Regions from separate parts of the Homo sapiens genome. Here region 2 is linked to region 1. The links come from fine-mapping of genetic effects on gene expression. Tissue or cell type: nasal epithelium. Region 1 holds a variant in brackets; the other region holds the start of a gene. All regions are shown on one strand. Distances are between the middles of the regions.

Region 1 (10,686 bases):
GACAGAAGAACCGCTTGAACCCAGGAGGCGGGGCTGCAGTGAGCCGAGATAGCGCCACTGCACTCCAGCCTGGGCGACAGTGAGACTCCGTCTCAAAAAAAAATTTTTTTTACATATACAATATGTAAACATTACGTATAATGTACATATATTCCATCTATGGAGATTGTGGTTAGGGACGGAAGGATGGGTGGGGGTGCCAACATTTTTGCATTTCCAAGGGGTTTTCTGAATTCACAAAGTACTTTCACAACCTCATTTGATCCTCTTTAAAATCCAAGGCACAGTAAACGGTGAAAGCAGGACTGAAATCTAGTTCCTGACCCCAAATTTTAACCTCTTCAAAATCCTCTCCCATGTGGCTTCGTAGTTACGCTTACATTAAAAAAAAAAAATTACCAAAGTTGTTCGCACACTCGAGTGTCTGGTAACCACTTAGGTCGAGGACCCCTGGTCTGGAGTCGACGGGCCTGATCTCGGCTCAGCCACTTCCTTCTGGGGGTGATCGCGAAGATTCAGCGATGACACGAACAAATTCCTAAGCCCGGGAAATACTGTAAGAAATTTTCAATACAGCAAAAAGAAAATGTACATTTCTGAGGCTGTCGAGAACCGTTCACACAGCAGCTTCCGAATCCGCTCTTGAAAGAGCGGATCAGAAAGAACACGCACTCCTCCGCGCAGGGAAATATGCCGCACGCACTCAAGGGACCGGCCGCGAAAGTTAGTGCGTGGGCGGGGCACAGCGAAGGGGGCCAGGGCCTTGCCGGGGCGGGGCTGGCGCCCGGGGCGGTCGCGACGTAGCCCCGCCCCCAGCGTTGGCGCGAGATCCGAACGTCGGCGGCCGCGGTTCTGGCGTTCCCTGAGGCGCCGGGAGCCTGCGCCGGCGTCCTGCCGGCTTCGTCTCCTCAGCGGCCATGAGGCGGACAGGCCCCGAGGAGGAGGCCTGCGGCGTGTGGCTGGACGCGGCGGCGCTGAAGAGGCGGAAAGTGCAGGTGGGACGCTGGGGGATGAGAGGGCGTTGGGAACCAGGTAGGGCCTGGAGGCGTAAGACGGGAGGAGTTTGGGGGACACCTGGAGATGATGAAAGCGAAGTCGGGGACAGAGAAGGGAACAGCGTTGGGGATTCACAGGCGAGAGGGATTGTGGTCTGAAGAAGGTTGAAAAACGGGGCTTGGGGAGGATGGGAGGGACGGAAGGAAAGAGCGTGCTGTTGGGGGGTCTGGAGGAGCGGTGCGCAGGGAGGGGCGGCGAAGGTTCAGGTGTGGGAGAGGCGGAGGGAAAGTTCGCTCGGAGCAGTTGAACTGACCAGGCTCCCTAGGAGGCCACAGTCCCTGCGAGACGTCCTAGTAGAGGCTGGAGCATTGGGAGATGGATGCGAATGCAAATTGGGGAAATTCTCACCCCGGGGTCTGTTTCCACCCAATTTGCCAAGTTGCAGGCCAACTACCTGCCCAGAACCGGTAACTTTGAGGGGAAAAGTAGAAGCTATGGGAAGGGGAGCTGGCCTCCTATGTACTGAGCAGTCACTGGGTGCCGGATACTGCATTAGATACTGAATATGCGTTATATGTGTCGTCATTCTTGCTGGGAATGAGGAAACTGAGGTTCAGTAACTAACCTAGGCCCGCCTAACTAGAAGGAGCTGGAAATCACATTCAGGTCTGTCACCTAGGCAAGATGCTCTTCAGTCACTGTAAAGAAACAAAAGTGCGACATAATAATCATTCATGTTTATTGAGCATTTTATGCTGGTGCTAAGTGTTTTAGGTATGTTACCTTGTTTGGTACAATTCTATATGGTAGATAGTGTAATGATACCCATTTTACATACGGAAAACAGGCTCAAAACAGACACTAGGGGCAAGATTCTTGCTCTCAGGTTGCTCACAGTCTTATAGGGAAGAAAAGAGGTGTATAAATAATAACAACAATACCTAACCTTTATTGAGTGCTTTCTATGTGTCAGGCATTTTGCCGAGACTTTATACACTTTATCAATGGCAGGTACTCACCAAAATTCAGTAAAGTAGATTTTGTCATTATCCTGGTTTTATAGATAAGAAATTTGATCATTTTATTATTATTATTTATTATTATTATTTTTTGAGATGGAGTCTTGCTCTGTCGCCCAGGCTGGAGTGCAGTGACACAATCTCAGTTCCCTGCAAGCCCCACCTCCGGGGTTCACGCCATTCTCCTGCCTCAGCCTCCTGAGTAGCTGGGACTACAGGCGGCCACCACCACGCCCGGCTAATTTTTTGTATTTTTAGTAGAGACAGGTTTTCACCGTGTTAGCCAGGATGGTCTCGCTCTCCTGACCTCGTGATCTGCCCGCCTCAGCCTCCCAGAGTGCTGGGATTACAGGCGTGAGCCACTGCGCCCGGCATATTATTATTATTGTTATTTTTGAGATGGAGTTTCACTCTTGTTGCTCGTGCTGGAGTGCAGTGGCGCGATCTAAGCTCACTGCAACCTCTGCCTCCCGGGTTCAAGCGATTCTTCCGCCTCAGCCTCCCGAGTAGCTGGGACTACAGGCGCCCGCCACTACGCTCGGCTGATTTTTGTATTTTTAGTAGAGACAGGGTTTCACTATGTTGGCCAGGCTGGTCTTGAACTCCTGACCTCAAGTGATCCGCCCGTCTCGGCCTCCCAAAGTGCTGAGATTACAGGCTTGAGCTACCGTGCCTGGCCGATTGTTTTATTTTTTCAAAAATTATCAAAATGGCCGGGTGCGGTGGCTCACGCCTGTAATCCTAGTACTTTGGGAGGCCGAGGCGGGCGGATCACCTGAGGTCAGGAGTTCGAGACCGGCCTGGCCAACATGGTGAAACCCCGTCTCTCCTATAAAAAATACAAAAATTTGCTGGGCGTGGTGGCAGGTACCTGTAATCCCAGCTACTCGGGAGGCTGAGACAGGAGAATTGCTTGAACCCAGGAGGTGGAGGTTGCAGTGAGCCGAGATCGTGCCACTGCACTCCAGCCTGGGTGACAGAAGACTCAGTCTCAAAAAAAAAAAAAAAAAAATCAAAATGTGCAATAGCTATTTATTACTCCTTGAATTAGGAATAAGCCATTTGTACCCTTTGAATACATTCTTGAATGACATGGGATGCGTGGGAAACTTGTATACCACTTTGATTTGTTAGTTAATTTTGGAGACAGGCCTCAGTCCGTCACCCAGGCTAGAGTGCGGTGGCGTAATCACGACTACCTACAGCCTCAACGCCCCCGGGCTCCAGGTGATCCTCTTGCCTCATCCTCCCGAGTAGCTGGGACTACAGGCATAGTGCCACAAAGCCCAGCTCATTTTTTGTATTTTTTTTTTTTGTAGAGACGGGGTTTCGCTGTGTTACCTAGGCTGGTCTTGAACTCCTGAGCTCAAGTGATCTGCCCACCGTGGCTTCTCAAAGTGCTGGGATTACAGGTGTGAGCCACTGCACCCAGCCACCAGTTTAATTTAGAAAGAGAACAGAAATAGAATTAGGAAGAGTTCAGGAGAGCGAGAAAGGGAATATTCCACAGGGAAGAGGAGAGCCAATATTTGTCTCTCTGTCTATAATTCTGTTTTGTTGTTGTTGTTGTTGTTGTTGTTTTCCGAAATGGAGTCTTGCTCTTGTTGCCCGGGCTGGAGTGCAGTGGTGCGATCTCAGCTCACTGCAACCTCCACCTCCTGGGTTCAAGCAGTTCCCCTGCCTCAGTCTCCAGAGTAGCTGGGATTACAGGCATGCACCACCTTGCCCAGGTGAATTTGTATTTTTAGTAGAGACGGGGTTTCTCCATGTTGGTTAGGCTGGTCTTGAACTCCCAACCTGAGGTGATCCACCTGCCTCGGCCTCCTGGGATTACAGGCGTGAGCCACTACGCCCAGCCTAATCTTGTTTTATTGTTTGTTTTGTTTTTTTTTTTTTGAGATGGAGTCTTGCTCTGTCACCCAGGCTGGAGTGTAGTGGCATGATCTCGGGTCACTGCAGCCTCTGCCTCCCAGATTCAAGCGATTCTCTGCCTCAGCCTCATGAGTAGCTGGGATTACAGGCGTGTGCCACCATACCTGGCTAATTTTTGTATTTTTAGTAGAGACAGGGTTTCACCATGTTGACCAGGCTGGTCTCGAACTCCTGGCCTCAAGTGATCCACCTGCCTCAGCCTCCCAAAGTGCTGGGATTACAGGCATGAGCCACCGTGCCTGGTCTGTCTATAATTCTTATACCCCCAAATCCTGCCTTTTTCCCTGGCAATGTTATGGTGAAAACATTTGTCTTGTTGATGTAGTACATGACAGTTATAGAATCCTCCAGGATCTCTAGGCCCTTAACTTATTCTGATTTCTAGAGGCCTGGACCTTATGACCATACTCACTAACACCATTTCTCCTTCTTGTTACTTGATTCCCAAAGATACTTGTTAAAATCTTTGGTTCCTGACTATTAACTATTACTCTGACTTCCAACCCAGAGAAGAGTACTAAAGATTCCCTTTCACAAGGTGCCTCTTCCTAGAGTGGCTATCAAATAGGCATACAGTCCTTTGAGTTTTAATGTCAGGGATGGATGGGCAGTACCTAGTGTCTGTGTTTTTGAAAACATGCCTCTTCCCCCTTGATCTCTAAACAGAATGGTTTGCTATTTTTGAGAGAATGAGTAGTTTGTAGTCTGGCCAGTAGACAATAGTAGTCTATGTTTGGAGTGAGTTTGCTTCTCTCCTAATTTGAACTACCCATTTGGCCTCGTTACTTAGGCCTTGTATGTATACTAGATTTGCTTTCATTTTGTTTTTATATTATGAAAATAATATATGTTTGTTTAAAAAAAATTAAACAGGACTGTGGCTCGTGCCTGTAATCTCAGCACTTTGGGAAGCTCAGCACTTTGGGAAGCCAGGAATTTGGGACCAGCCTGGGCAATATAATGAGACCCCAACTCCACAAAAAATAAAAAAAGTTTATCATGGGCGGAGGAGTGTGGCAGTTTTAATGTACGTCCACAAATTCTTCAGTACTTTTCCTTCTAAAAGAACTTAATTCCCCTTTCCTTGAGCACAGACAGTATTTAGTGACTCCAATGAATAGAATGTGGTAGGTTATAGTGTTAGAATTCTGAGTCTAAGCCTGGCCAACATGGTGAAACCCCATCTCTACTGAAAATACTAAAATTAGCCAGGCTTGGTGACGGGTGCCTATAATCCCAGCTACTCAGGAGGCTGAGGCAGGAGAATTGCTTGAAGCCAGAAGGTGGAGGTTGCAGTGAGCCAAGGTTGCGCCACTGCACTCCAGACTGGGTGATAGAGTGAGACCCCATCTCAAAAAAAAAAAAAAAAAAAAAGAAAGAATTCTGAATCTAGGTCATAAATGACATTGCAGCTTTAGCTTCATTGTCTCTTTGGGAGAAGCCAGCTGTCATGTTGTGAGGACACTCAAGCAGCTCTGTGGAGAGGTTCATGCAGTGAGGAGCTGAGGCCTTTTGCCAACAGTTGTGTGAGTGAGGGAGTCATCTTGAAATTGGATACCGCACCTCTAGTTGATATTTTGAATGCAACCTCACTAGACTGTGAGACAGACCCACCCATCTAGGCTTAACCCAAATTCTTCATGCACAGAAGTTGTGAGATAATAAATGCCTGGCTGGATTTCAGACTGGTGACCCACTTATACCTCTTATCTCCCCCTTTTTGAACATAATGTCTGTAACAGTTATGCCCGTTCCAAATTGTATGTTAGATGTATGAGGGAAGATAATTTGTCTTTAGTTCACAGGCCTGCAGATCTAAAGGAACTGTATTTAAACTACATTTTTGGACTTCACATGTACCTGTTTTAGATGCTAGTATCCTTGATATTAAGCTAATGCTATAAAGAGATGAGATTTTTGTAGAGTTTTGGGAGGGAGGGAGTATATTTTGCATATGGGAAGAATGTAAGTAATTTGGGCCAGAAGGTGGACTGTGATGGTTTCAAAATATGTCCACACTCTTCCCTTCAAGAGGTGGAGCTTCATTCTCCTGCCTTTATGTTTGGATTGGACTTGGTAACTTGCTATTTATTTATTTATTTGTTTGTTTATTTTTTTGAGATGGAGTCTTACTCTGTTGCCTAGACTGGAGTGCAGTGGCATGATCTTGGCTCACTGCAACCTCCACCTGCTGGGTTGAAGCAGTTCTCCTGCCTCACCTTATGAGTAACTGGGATTACAGGCGTGCACCACTATGCCCGGCTAATTTTTGTATTTTTAGTACAGACGGGGTTTTACCATGTTGGCTAGACTGGTCTCAAACTCCTGACCTCAGGTGATCTACCTGCCTTGGCCTCCCAAAGGGATTACAGGCGTGAGCCACTGC[G/A]CCGGGCCGTAACTTGCTTCTAATGAATAGAATATTGCGGGAACTGATGGTGTGTGACTTTTTCAGATTGGGTCATAAATGGCTTTGTGACCTCTTTTGATTGCTCACTCTGGGAAAAGCTAGCTTCCATGTTGCTACATGAAGCCTGTTAACAGCCATGTTAGTGAGCTATCTTGGAAGTGGATCCTTTCAGCCCCAGTTAAGGCTTCAGATGATTGTAGCCTGAGCCAACATCATGAATGCAACCTCATGAGAGACCCTGAGCCAGAACCACCAAGCTAACCACCCTGAGAAGCTGTGTGAGATTAATGTTTTTTGTTTTGTTTTTGTTTGTTTGTTTGTTTTTTGAGACAGAGTTGCTCTGTCACACAGGCTGGGGTGCAGTGGCACGATCTCAGCTCGCTGCAAACTTTGACTCATGGGTTCAGACGATTCTCCTGCCTCACCCTCCTTAGTAGCTGGAATTACAGGCGCCCACCACCACACCTGGCTAATTTTGGTATTTTTAGTAGAGATGAGATTTCACCATGTTGGTCAGGCTGTTCTCAAACTCCTGACCTCAGGTGATCCACCTGCCTCCGCCACCCAAAGTGCTGGGATTACAGGCATGAGCCACCACGCCGGCCGAATGTTTATTGTTTTAAGCTTCTAAGTTTTGTGGTAATTCGTTACAAAGCAATACAACACTAATACAGCTAATATTAAGAAAGATTTTGTGAACAATATTTGGAAACTTTAATACCCACTTTCAATCATGGATATCAACAAGGAAAAAAGATTTGAACAATACTATAAACCAGGTAGACCTAACAGACAAAAATATAGAACAGTCTACCCAACAACAGCAGAATACATAGTCTTCTCCATGACACATGGAACATTCTCCACAAATACTAGGTCACAAAACAAATCTCAATAAATTTAGAAAGATGGAAATCATACAAAGTATATTCTCCATAATGGAATGAAAGTAGAAATCAGTAACAGAAGAAAAAGTAGAAAATCCACAAATAGGTTGAAATTAAACAGCACATTTCTAAATAACCAAGAGTCAAAGAAGAAATCAAAAGGAAAATTATAATAGAAAGTACTTTGAGATAAATGAAAACAAAAATATAATGCACCAAGATTTATGGGATGCAACTAACACTATGCTTAGAGGGATATGTATAGCTGTAAATGCTTTTATTAAAAAGAATCTCGGCCAGGCGCAGTGGCTCACACCTGTAATCCCAACAGTTTGGGAGGCTGAGGTGGGTGGATCACCCGAGGTCAGGAGTTTAAGACCAACCTGGCCAACACGGCGAAACCCTGTCTCTACTAAAAATACCAAAATTAGCTGTGCGTGGTGGCAGGCGCCTGTAATCCCAGCTACTCAGGAGGCTGAGGCAGGAGAACTGCTTGAACCCAGGAGGCGGAGGTTGCAGTGAACTCCAGCCTGGGCAACAAGAGTGAAACTCCTGTCTCAAAAAAAAAAACAACAAAAAAAAAAACCTTAAATAATCTAATCTTCTACCTTAAGAAACTAGAAAAAGAAGAGCAATCTAAACCCATAGTGACCAGAAGGAAGGAAATAATACAATTTAGAGTGAAAATAAATAGTAAAGAAAAACAATCAACATCAAAAGTTGGTTCTTTGCAAAGATCAACAAACTCAACACACCTTTAGCTAGACTGATCAAGAATAAAAGAGAGCACAGTGGCTCACACCTATAATCCCAGCATTTTAGGAGGCTGAGGTGGGAGGATCCCCTGAACCCAGGAGTTCAAGACCAGCCTGGGCAACATAGGGAGACCCTATCTCTACCAAAAAATACAAAAATTAGCCTGATGTGGTGGTACATGCCTGTAGTTCCAGCTACTCAGGAGGCTGAGGTGTAAGGATCACTGAACCCAGGGAGGTTGAGGCTGCACTGAGCGGTGATTGAGCCACTGCACTCCAGCCTGGGTAAGAGAGTGACACCCTGTCTCAATCAGTCAGTCAGCAAGAGGCCAGGTGAGGTGGCTGAAAAAACCCTATCTCTACTAAAAATACAGAAATTAGCCAGTTATGTTGGTGTGTGCCTGTAGTCCCAGCTACTCGGGAGGCTGAGGCAGGAGAATCACTTGAACCCGGGAGACAGGTTGCAGTGAGCCGAGATTGTGCCACTGCATTCCAGCCTGGGCGACAGAGTGAGACTGTCTAAAAAAGAAAATAAAGAGATAAAAATAATTAGAATACTATAAACAACTGTATGCTAACACATTTAGATAACTTAGATGAAATGGACAAATTCCTAGGAAGTCACAGACTACCAAACTTGCCTCAAGAAGAAATAGATAAAAATCAACTGACTGTAAATGTAAGGGTTTACTTCTGGACTTTCAGTTCAATTCCTTTGGTCTATAGACCTATAACGAAGAGATTGAATTAGTAATTTTAAAACTTCCTGCAAAGAAAAGTCCAGGTCCAGATAGTTTCTCTGGTGAATTCTACCAAACATTTAAAGAATTATACCAATCCTTCAGACTCTCTCAAAAAAATAGAATAGAAGAGGAGGGAACACTTTCCAACTCATTTTGAGGCCAGTATTACTCTGATACTAAAACTAGACCAAGATATCACAAGAAAAGGAAATTATGGTCTGGTATCCTTTATGAATACAGATACAAAAATACTCAACAAAATACAAGCAAAACAAATTTAGCAACACATAAAAAGGATTATAAATCATGACCAAGAGGAATTTATCTTAGGAATGCAAGGTTGGTTTAAATTTGAAAACCAATTAATATACCATACTAATAGCATAAAAGACAAAAACCACATAATCATGTCAATAGACACAGAAAAAGCATTTTGACTGACATCATTTTGTGATTAAAACACTCAACAGACCAGGAATAAAAGGGAATTTTCTCAGCCTCACAAAGGGCATCTATGAAAACCCAGTTAACATCATACTTAATGGAAGAAGACTGAATGTTTCCACTCCTAAATCAGCAACAAGACAAAGATCTTGCCACTCTGTTTACCATTGCACTAGAGATTTTATGCAGGGAAATTTAGCAAGAAAAAGAAATAAAAGATACCCAGATTAAAAAGGAAGAAGTAAAATTATCTGTTTGCAGAAAATATGATCTTATGTGTAGAAAATCCTAAGGAATCCACTTAAAAAAATTAGAAAAAATGAGTTCAGCAGTGTGACAGGATACAAAAATCAATTGTACTTCCGTATGGTAGGATTTTATCCAAAAAATGAAACTAAGGAAATAATTTCATTTACAATAGAATCAAATAGAATAAAATACTTAGGCATAAATTTAACAAAACAGTGCAAGACATACACTGGAAACTATAAAACTCATTGAAAGAAATTAAAAATGTAAATAATGGAAAGACATTACATGTTCATTGATCAGAAGACTTAAGATAGGAATATGCCCCAATTGATCTACAGAATCAGTGCAGTCCTTATCAACATCTCAGTTGTCCTTTTTGCAGATACTGACAGTCTGATCCAGAAATTCATGACATCCGAGGGATCTAGAAAAGCCAAAACAAGCTTGAAGAGTAACAAAGTTGGAGGAATCACATGTACTGATTTCAAAATTACTATACAGTTACAGTACTTAAGATGGTTTGATACTGTCATAAAGGTAGACACATTATAGATCAAAGGAATTGAAAGTCCAGAAGTAAACCCTTGTATTTATGGTCAGTTGTTTTGTTGTTGTTGTTGTTGTTGTTTTTAGAATCAGGGTCTCAATTTGTTACCCAGACTGGAGTGCTATGATCACACCCAGAGTGCTGATGTGATCATAGCTTTATTGAGATATGATTCATATACCATAAAATTTGCCCATTTAAGTATGTACCCCCGAGAGATAGGAAAACGTATGTCTGCACAAAAACTTGCACACAAATGTTCTTAGCAGCGTTTCTCATAATAGCCAAAAAGTGGAAACAATCCAAGTAGTCATCAACTGATGAACATCAACTGGTAAACAAAATGGTATATCTAGGGTTGAGTGCAGTGGCTCACGCCTGTAATCCCAGCACTTTGGGAGGCTGAGATGGGGCAGATCACTTGAGGTCAGGAGTTCAAGACCAGCCTGGCCAATATGATGAAACCCCGTCTCTACTAAAAAAATACAAAACTTAGCCAGGCATGGTGGCAGGCACCTGTAATTCCAGCTGCTCAGGAGACTGAGGCAGAAGAATTGCTTGAACCCAGGAGGCAGAGGTTGCAGTGAGCCAAGATTGCGTAGCTGCACTCCAGCCTAGGTGACAGAATAAGACCCTGTCTCAAACAAACAAACAAAATAACACAAAATGGTATATCTATATAATGGAATATTATTTGGCAATAA
Region 2 (9,311 bases), 34 kb after region 1:
AAAGAGGACTACACTAAGACATTAATAGTTATTGTATTATTACTATGTAATTATAGGTAATTTATTTTCCTTTTACTTTTCATAATTTTAATATTTTCATATGCTTAAATTTTCAAAATAAATTGGTAAGAGTCCCTTAAATAATATTTAAGGTAATTTAATAATAATAATAAATGCATATTTACACACAAGTAAGATTCAACTGTTTCTGCTACAAATTATTTGGTATGGTAGATGGATCCAGGATTGATCGCTCCTGCATTTAGATAGGAAACCTGGGACTCACAGGAGTTAAGTGATACTCCAAGGTCACACAGAGAAGAACTTCCAGTGACCCAGGAACTAGTGCTAAAATAGGGCATTTGGGGGAAGCCTCCATTTGTTTTCCTGATTAGCCCTGAATGCTCCTTTGCTCTTGGCAATTAAATGAGTAAACAAATATAAAGTACAGCACAGTGCCTGACACATAGTATGTGCTCAGTAAATGTTATCTAGTATTACCAATACTGCTCACATACATTCCTGCTCTGTGAGAGCCTGTGCCCTTGATTGTCTCTGCCCAGCATCTGGCCAAAGAACTGAAGAGGGTATAGCCAAGTGTGGGGACGGCCTCTATGCAGTGAGCCACACTCCCTAGCTGTCTCCCTTTTTTTTTTCTGATGCTTCTGAGGCAAGTTAGGACCAGTTCCTGCCCAGGATCTTTAGACAATTCTGGATAGCTGGCAATCTGAATACTGGGACAGCTTTTCCTGCCCCCTACCCCTGCGACACTTCCAACTCCATTCCTGACCCTAATACCAACCCTGACACCTCTTCTAATTCCAGATCCAGTTCCTACAGACTCTGCTTCTTAGCATCTTTTATACAGATTTGGCTCCTTCATTTCTGTTTCTACCTGGGCCCACATCCTTTCATGCACATATTTCTATCTCCTCTGTGTGGGTAGAAAGCACAAGTATTTCTTTTGTATCCCAGCTCTCCAAATGCACACATCTGAACCATATAGTTTGGGGCTGGTGCTTAACCATTTAGTTCCTAGAGGGAGGCAGCTGGGACTAATAAATGCTACTTAGCTTTCTACCACAGAAGGGGTCTCAAGAGACCTGGGCCAGGTAGGAATCTCTGCTGCTGAGTGGGTGCTAAAGGATCCCTAGACACAGAGGTAAGACCAAAGCACCCCAGTAAAGGATGCCCAGATTGGCCAAAAAGAGAAGGCTGAGGAATTATGGCCTCAGAGAAACACTAAAAATAGTGGAGCTGGGCATGGTGGCTTGTGCCTGTAATCCCAGCTACATAGGAGGCTGAGGCAGGAGGACTGCTTGAGCCCAGGAGTTTAAGACCTAGCCTGGGCAACATAGGGAGACCTCATCTCAAAAAATAATAAAATAAAAATACTGGCTACATGGTCAATTCTTAGGGCTGGTGAAGAAAAGCAGAGTTCAACTCAAAAATCACAATAGTCAGTGTCCCATGTGGGGGACCTGTCAGGTTCCTTGTGGTCACAGGTTTGTATGCACTCAGGAGGACACAGTGACCAGGATATCTTATAAGCATTTAACAAATATTTCATAACAGAATGAAAAGTGACCAGGAAACAACCTACTTGGGCAGTACCAAGGGGTTTGGGGCACAGAAGCAGCACTGTCTGAGCCTCTACTCTCCTGCCCTTCCAACATACTCACCTCAAAGGACGCCCGGGCACACGGCTTCAAGGGTAGGTTGGTCCCAATTCTTCTTACTACACTTCGAGCAGCCCCATGTGGCTTGTTTTGCCAGATTGGGATGGTCTGGAGCAAAGAGACGGAGACAGCTACAACCCCAGAGAATGAATCCAACTACTGTCCTTGTCCTCTCCTCTCTAGGTTTGTGGAGACTGAATTCCACAAACCTAGGGACAGGGCACTCTCTAGGGGCAAGTCAACTCTCAATTATAGTGAGGGCAGGTTCCCCAGTTGCCAGCCTACACCCTGGCCAGCCACCCAAGGGAATACCTGCTGCTGCTAAGGCAGTCAATGTTGGGAGGGTCAGGGAAGGGGAGAGGAAGTAGCTGAGTGTAGAGATTATCCAGGCTTTCCTTCCCGTCCTCTGTACAGAAAGGCAGACATACACTGACTCCTGAAGTGCCCCAGGATCATAGTTGGTTCTTCTTAGGGGGAGGGAGTGAAACGGTGGCCTTGCTCCAATTCCAGGCCTCTGGAGAAAGGAGTGCTCAACTGGAGAGTCTCAGAACCTTTTACAGTACTTCAGCAGGCCCAGCACCCAACCTTCCCCACCATACCCCTGCCCTGGGAATGCCCCTTACCACAGTGGCTTCCATTCCTGACATTTGAACCAGCTCCTGCACTTGAAGGACAAGGCAGCCACTGGGCAGCTCCGGGAGGCGGGAGGCGTGACTCCTTCATATCAGGCCATCTGGAGGAGCACCAGATTTCCCTCTTGTGAAACAACCCCCCACAGTGGGGATTTAATGGTCACCACACAAGCCCCAAAAAACCAGGCCCTGCAGAGCCATGACTTCACAGGGGAGAAAACCAGCCCAAGAGGCTGCCCTCACCCAACACTTAGCTCTAAGTCCAGACTCTTAAAGGTTCTGTTAAAGATCTGCGGCCAGGCGCAGTGGCTCACATCTGTAATCCCAGCACTTTGGGAGGCCGAGGTGGGCGGATCACGAGGTCAGGAGAGCGAGACCATCCTGGCTAACACAGTGAAGCCCTGTCTCTACTAAAAATACAAAAAATTAGCCAGGTGTGGTGGCGGGCACCTGTAGTACCAGCTACTTGGGAGGCTGAGGCAGGAGAATGGCGTGAACCCAGGAGGCAGAGCTTGCAGTGAGCCGAGATCACGCCACTGCACTCCAACCTGGGTGACAGAGCGAGACTCCGTCTCAAAAAAAAAAAAAAAAAAAAAAGATTTGCCTAGTGAGCTTGGCCAACCCAAGAGCCTTCCTGGGCTCTCAGGTTTCTTGAGGCAAAACTTCTAAAGATGCAAATAGAATCCTTGGTAGCTACAAAGCTCATCTAGCCAAATTATAAGTACTATCCAAGCCCAGGATTCATTCTTGAAGATGAGATGTAAAAGCACTGCTGGGCCCTTGCAAAGGGAGAGATCAGAGAAAATAGGAGAACGAACACCAGCTCATGCCAATCTCAGTCTCATGAGCTACAGAGAAAAAGAGCCAAAAAAGTTTATCCTGGCTCAGCCACCTTCTGGCTTTGTAGCTACAGGCAAGTTATTTAACTTTTCTGAATGTTGGTTTTTCCATCTGGAAAAAGGAGACAGGAAAAGCTGCCACTGGAGGCTACCTTAAGGGTCAATGAGTGAAATGGGGTTGAGTGCTTAATGAACTGTTAAAACATGACACAGATGGGTGAGGTGACATCTGACTGCTCTTCACAGCAGTCCTTGCATGGTGAGCAGATGCAATCAGTGTGCTCGTTCATTCACTTGTTCATCAAACACCAACAGTACCCACTTGTGCCAGGCCTTGTGCTGGGCACCGTAGGGGCTATGGAAGGAGTAAGACACAGTCATGCTCTCAAGGAACTCGCTGTCCAGCAGAGTGATAGGACATGAATACATACTTCTAGCAAAGGCTGAGTAGCATTAGGCAGGTGGCCAGATGAGGTCAGAGCTCTGGCCCTAGTGCCCTGTAGTAAGTTGCGAGGGAGTAGGAAATGAAGACAAAACAGCAAGAGCACAGGTCCAGCACAAGAAGGTGAAGGACATGGAAAGAGGAGCAGAGCATGATAAAGCTACAAAAGTAGGGGGCAAGTCATGAGGTCCGGGTCACTGGGGAGCCCTGGACAGGCTCTGAATGGGAGATAGACTAGACTGACAAAGCAGCTCTTTCTGGAGACCTCCTGTGGAGGGTCCCCTCTTCTACCCTTGGGAGACGAGGTGTCATTCACTTCACGATACACATGGGGAAAGGAAGTTGGACAGGGGAAGGCACTTGTCTAAGGTCACTCAGTGGTCATGCCAGTGCAAAGCACCCAAAGCCTGGTCCAGGTCCTGCCACCTCCTGCGTGGGCTCCATCTTCTCGGCTCAGTTCAAGCCTTTATTATCAGAGTCCCTCTGTGTGCCAGGCTCTGTGCTGAATGTCCGTGTCGGCCACAAATTGCACTAACGGTGCTTACTGCCACTTCCTCTCCGACCTTACCTCCAAAGACCCAGCCGGGCCTAACCCTCACACACAGCCAGAGGAATCCTTCCCAAACACAGTTAATCACATCGCTCATCCGTTTAAAACTGGCTTACTAGAGCCAACACAGGATAAAATCCACAATCAGTCCCAAACCCATCTTTCTCTGCCGTCTCTAGACCACATTCACTGAGCACCAAGGCCTGCACGCTTCGCAGCCAGCCCTCCTGCTCTCCCCCTTGCCCTCCAGCCACACTGGCCCTCAACCCCCAACACTGGGCCCACCTCTGAGCCCTGCATCAAACACCAGCACCCCCTTCGCCGAGCTCATTCTTCATCATTCCTCAGAGCTCAGCTTAAGCATCACCTTCCTTCCCTGCGACAGGGTCAGGTCCTTTCCTGTGCGCTCCGCAGCACCCTGCCTGTCCCTCGGAGTCCTCGCGAGAGGAACTAGATAACTGTGATCCCCGCGCACAGCACGGTGTCTGCCTAGGACACAGTGAGCGCTTCAACGCGCTGAACTAAACGAATGAAGGGGAACACCAACTCAGCTGTCACCCCCGCCCCCAAGTGTCACTGGCTAGAAGATCTTCCCCCGGTTCGCCGGCAGCACCGGTGGGTCTTGTCACCTCTGCGCCCCGCAGCCCTCCGGAGGCTGCAGTTGCTGTCTGCTGACAGGCGTCCCCTCAGGAGAACGGGAGCTCCTCCAGCGCAGGGCCCTGCTCAGCACCCCTGGTCCCGGGGGCCCCCACGGAGGCCGCCGCGCTCAGTGAAACTTTGCCGCGCGCAGCAGTGGCCGGAGACCCGCGCGGACCCTCTCCCCGCGGGGACCCGCCAGGGCGAGTCGCCCCTCCCCCGCGGCAGACGACCCGACCTGGGCCAAGGTCGGCCAAGTGCTCGCCGCCTGCCCAGCGGCCCTTGGACCCACAGGACCCGGACCCGAGTGCGCGGAAGCCTCCGAGCCGCGGCCAGGTCTCAGAATGCGCGGCGGGGCAGCCCGGCCCGTCAAGCAGCGAAGCCGAAACTAGAAGCCTGAGGTCTGGCTTGGTCACTGTTTGCTGGGGAACTCCGACGAGCAACTACCCTTCGGGGACTCAGTTTCCCCCGGGCCAAGTGAGACGGACAGCTGCGGCTCCCGCGAGAACTCGCGCGGGAACAGGAGCTGCGGGCTCCGCACAGCGCCCGGCACGTAGACCCAGTCTACTAACGGGCTGGAAGGTCGCGCTCCCGCCTCCGCGCCTCCCTAGAACCTTTCTCACCTCAAGCTCGGGCTCCCGGACTCTCTCACCTCACGGCCCCTCCTTCCACCTTGGGCCGCCCAGCCTCAACCGCCCTCACTTCCGCTGACCCGCCCCCCGGAAGCGATCCTCCGCAGCTGCGCACCGAGGCGCACCTCCGCGCACCCTCAGGAGGCGGGTCCAGCTCGGTGGCGAGGGGAGCGCGGCCCCCGAGTGGGCGAGGCGCTGGCGGCTGTAGGCTCCGATACCGCGGAGCACACTCCCCTCCATCGAGACCGTGCCCCCGCGGGGTCTGTGTCCCCGGGAGGAGTTGGCTGCGTTTGGAGATCCCTCGGCCTGGTATTCGTCGCGTCTCCCTGCTTGTTGCTCTCCACGTTTAGCCCCATCCGACTTCTGGAAGCCCAGGGGTGTGTCGCTCGACCCCTAAAATATGCTCCTACCCCTAGGGCAAACTTCAGAATCCTCACCCTGGCCCCCTTCCCAGTTCTTGGTTCCCAGGCAGGTCCCTTTGCAAAGCCTCTCTCCAGCAAGAATGCGCAGAATGGGCCTCTTTCTCCTCTTGACTCCTGCCCTCCAGCACTTTGCAGCTTTCTTCTATTTTAGCCTCTCTCTCTCTCTCTCACACACACACACACACACACACACACACACACACACACACACGGTATATTCAATGAGTTTGCTTATTAGATGGGTACTTGATGTACAAGACTCCAGAGGCTCTGTGGGAAGAGCCACATTCCTTCCAGGCTCACTAACCCACTCCCTCTTTGTGCTCCAGCCCTCACTGTCTTGGTCTGTGGCATGCAGTTCCTGGGTCACATTTCCTTCTCTGCCTTCAGCACAGCCTCGGGCTGTGCCTGGCTCCCAGGCTGGAGTTCCTTGGTTCCAAAGCCTGCAGTCCCCTCTGCCAGAGACAGAGCTGGTTTCATGGGTGAACAGCCCATGCAGTCACAACGGGCCGCATGCTCAGAATCCTGTACTTGGTTTAGTACTTTGCTGTTGCCGTCTTGAAATGATTTTCTAATAGGGGTTCTTGTGTTTTCATTTTGCACGGGGCTGTGCAAATTATGTGACTGGTCCTGGCTAGAGACCTCAGAGGTCGTCCACCCTGATCTCCACCATATCTCAAACGCTGAAGATTGACTTCCAGGTCTGGCCCTCTTCCCAGGATGGCACATTGTGTTTTAATCATTACCTTTCCCTCCTGTGCGATGGCGGATCATGCAAGTCCACGCTGGCTGTCTGTCCTGGGTGTAGATGCTGATTTGGTGTCCCACTCAGATCCCCTTGCAGGAAGAACGGAGCTCCCTACCTGGGAATTTCCTTCACCTCCCAAGCCAATGACTGATAAAAGGTCCAAAAGGCCAGTTCAGCTCTGCAGTGTGGTTTATGCCCCACAGCTCTTCCACTGTGGGTCAGGCCAAGGCTGGGCTGAGACTGTTCCTGCTCAGCATTTTTCCTTTCCCTCTTCTGCTTCCTTCCTTCTTTTACTGGTTTTTCTGGAAGTACACTCCCCCCCAGCCCCACCAAACAAACAAAACAAACAAACAAAAAAACACTTCATGCCTGTCTCAGGCTCTGCTTTTAAGACAATGATTTTAACTCCCAGATCTCTCTCAACAGAGAGCACCAGATTCTCAAAACAGTAAGTCCTACCACTTGTTCTATCGTAAAACTTATTTTGGGCAAGTCACTCAAGCCTTCGATAGGTAAGATAGTACCTGAAAGCATTCCAGCTCAACTCTGCCCCAAGAGGGAGCCACCCCATGGAAGGACGGAGCTGAGCAACATGCCACTCAAAGGAAAAGCACTTAGAACCACTCTAGTTAGTCTTCTCTAATTTTATTACAGGGCATGTTGGGGACAGGGGAGGGAAGTGTTAGAGGAGTGACAGGGCAGCCCGGGGCCCTCTCCCACCCTGAGCCTCGAGGCCTGGTGGGGGACATGAACTGCAGAGGCATCAGATAAGGCCTCAGAAAGCCCAGGCCATCATTTTCCATGGGACCAGGCTGGCTCAATGTGGAACTGGCCCTCCCAGAGCAGCAGGAGAAGGGCTCGCATGGGCTGCCCCCGTCACCTGTGCCTGACAGGATGGGGGGGGAGGCAGAGAGAGAGCATCAGACGCCCTCCCTCCCCATAAGGGGCATGGGGGATGGGGACACTTCCTCCCAGGACACAGGGAGCCTGGCTGAGCTGGCTGGCTCATGCCCCATCTGGTCTGGAGGTCAGAGGGGAGTGAGACACTCTGGTTTGAAAGGCCTTCCTTTCCACTTTGGGGAAAACAGGCAGGGAGAGAGGTGAGGGTGCCATGCCAAAAAACACCCCCAAATCCAGATGCAGACTTTGGAGCCACATGTGGGTTTGAATCTCAACTCTACCTGAGTGACCCTGGGCAAGTCACTTCACTTCCCTGAGACTCAAGTTTCATCAAGATGGGAACAATGAGCATCTGCCTCACAGGCTTGTCGTGAGGATTAAGTGAGAAGGTGCGTGTAATATTAGCGATGACTGGATGATACAAAATTAAGAACAAGGCTGGGCACGATTGCTCACGCCTGTAATCCCAGCACTTTGGGAGGCTGAGGCAGGTGGATCACCTGAGGTCAGAAGTTCCAGATCAGCCTGACCAATATGGTGAAACCCCATCTCTACTAAAAATACAAAAATTAGCCAGCCATGGTGGCATGCACCTGTAATCCCAGCTACTCGGGAGGCTGAGGCAAGAGAATTGCTTGAACCTGGGAGGTGGAGGTTGCAGTGAGCCAAGATCGAGCCATAGCACTCCAGCCTGGGTGACAGAGCAAGACTCCGTCTCAAAACAAAACAAAACAAAATTGAGAACAAGACTGGCTGGGGAAGGCTCAGTGGACACGCCCAAGGCAAGTGGGGTAACTCGGCACATAAAAGGCCCAGGAGTGGCTGCGGAGATGTCTGCCTTCCTTCTTCCTCTGCCAGGCTGAGTGAGCCCCGGGTGGGGTGAGGGGGTGGGGAGAGAACTGGGGGCTGGGGAGGGGGCAGCCTGACTTCAAGACCTTAATGAAAGAGAGTACAGGCATGCCTGTGGGCCTTTGTGGAGGATGGGACAGTGCTGGGGATCATGGATCCTCTGAGGACTGTTTTTAAAAAGCTGAAGAGGAGAAGGAAGAGAGGACTACTTCTTCCCATAGGTGCAGCTGCAAAGACATCAAGCTGGACCCATCGAGGATTTCGGATTCAGCCATCATGGGGCTGCTGCCGGGGAAGCCACTGCCCCTCCTTTCTCCTCAGCACTGGGGTTATAAAAAAATACCTACAAACCATGAGAAAGTTTGTGTAAAAACACTTTTCTGCACATATAAAAAGAGAGACTGGCCGTGGTCAGTGGCTCAGGACGTGGACCAAAGTCCCAAGAGTGGCCAAGGGGAGTCCGTGGTGCCCCAGAGGTAGAAGAGCTAGCCTGGGGCACCCCTGGTTGCCGGGACAGTGCCGGCTCTGGAGAAGGCTGTGGTGTTTGGCTGGGTTGTGCTTCTGTGGATGCAAGGTCTGAGGGGCAAGAGGGGCGGCAGGAGCGCTGGCTCCCGCAGTCCTGCAGAGACCCTGTGCTAAGGTAGGCGGTGGGAGTGCCTTGGCCCTGGGCCTCGGGAACCCCCTTAGTGAACCCCATTGCTAAAGGCAGAAACCCCTTCACAGTAAACTTCCCCAGATAGCTGGTCAGTGGCGTGGTCAGGGAAGCTGCAGGGGGTCCCGTCTGATTTCCACTCTGATGGAGGGTTCTGCCCAGAGGCTCCAGAAGACTGGCTCCTGTTGAGACTGACCCCAGCTGGGGACATCAGGCACAGGAGGGCAGTCCGGGGTATGGCCAGGAACGAAGGCTCTAGATAAACAGGGGAGCCGCCTTGGCAGCCTGGCCCCTCCTGGCTGGGGCTTCTTGATGTTTCCTGTGGGAAGG

Evidence for each region. PIP is the estimated chance that this variant, and not a neighbour inherited with it, causes the effect.
Region 2: MTFR1L starts here. The variant in region 1 is fine-mapped to the expression of MTFR1L in nasal epithelium (TOPMed, PIP 0.94).

Annotation. Positions count from the first base shown.
Region 1 is chr1:25,849,589-25,860,274 of GRCh38, reverse strand. It overlaps AUNIP (aurora kinase A and ninein interacting protein), which reads left to right and starts at 818. Exons shown (of 3, transcript NM_024037.3): 1 at 818-995. The coding sequence starts at 918. RefSeq lists silencers at 1-60, 661-920 and enhancers at 1-537, 411-640, 538-1,163. The variant G/A (reference allele first, on the strand shown) is at 6,334.
Region 2 is chr1:25,816,120-25,825,430 of GRCh38, reverse strand. MTFR1L (mitochondrial fission regulator 1 like) reads right to left here and starts at 5,477. Exons shown (of 7, transcript NM_001099625.2): 1 at 5,402-5,477; 2 at 2,303-2,412; 3 at 1,683-1,787. The coding sequence starts at 2,326. SELENON (selenoprotein N) reads right to left here. Exons shown (of 12, transcript NM_206926.2): 12 at 7,210-9,311. LOC646471 (a long non-coding RNA gene) reads left to right here and starts at 1,825. Exons shown (of 1, transcript NR_024498.1): 1 at 1,825-5,477. RefSeq lists enhancers at 4,682-4,771, 5,152-5,291, 6,934-7,434 and silencers at 4,882-5,051, 5,502-5,691.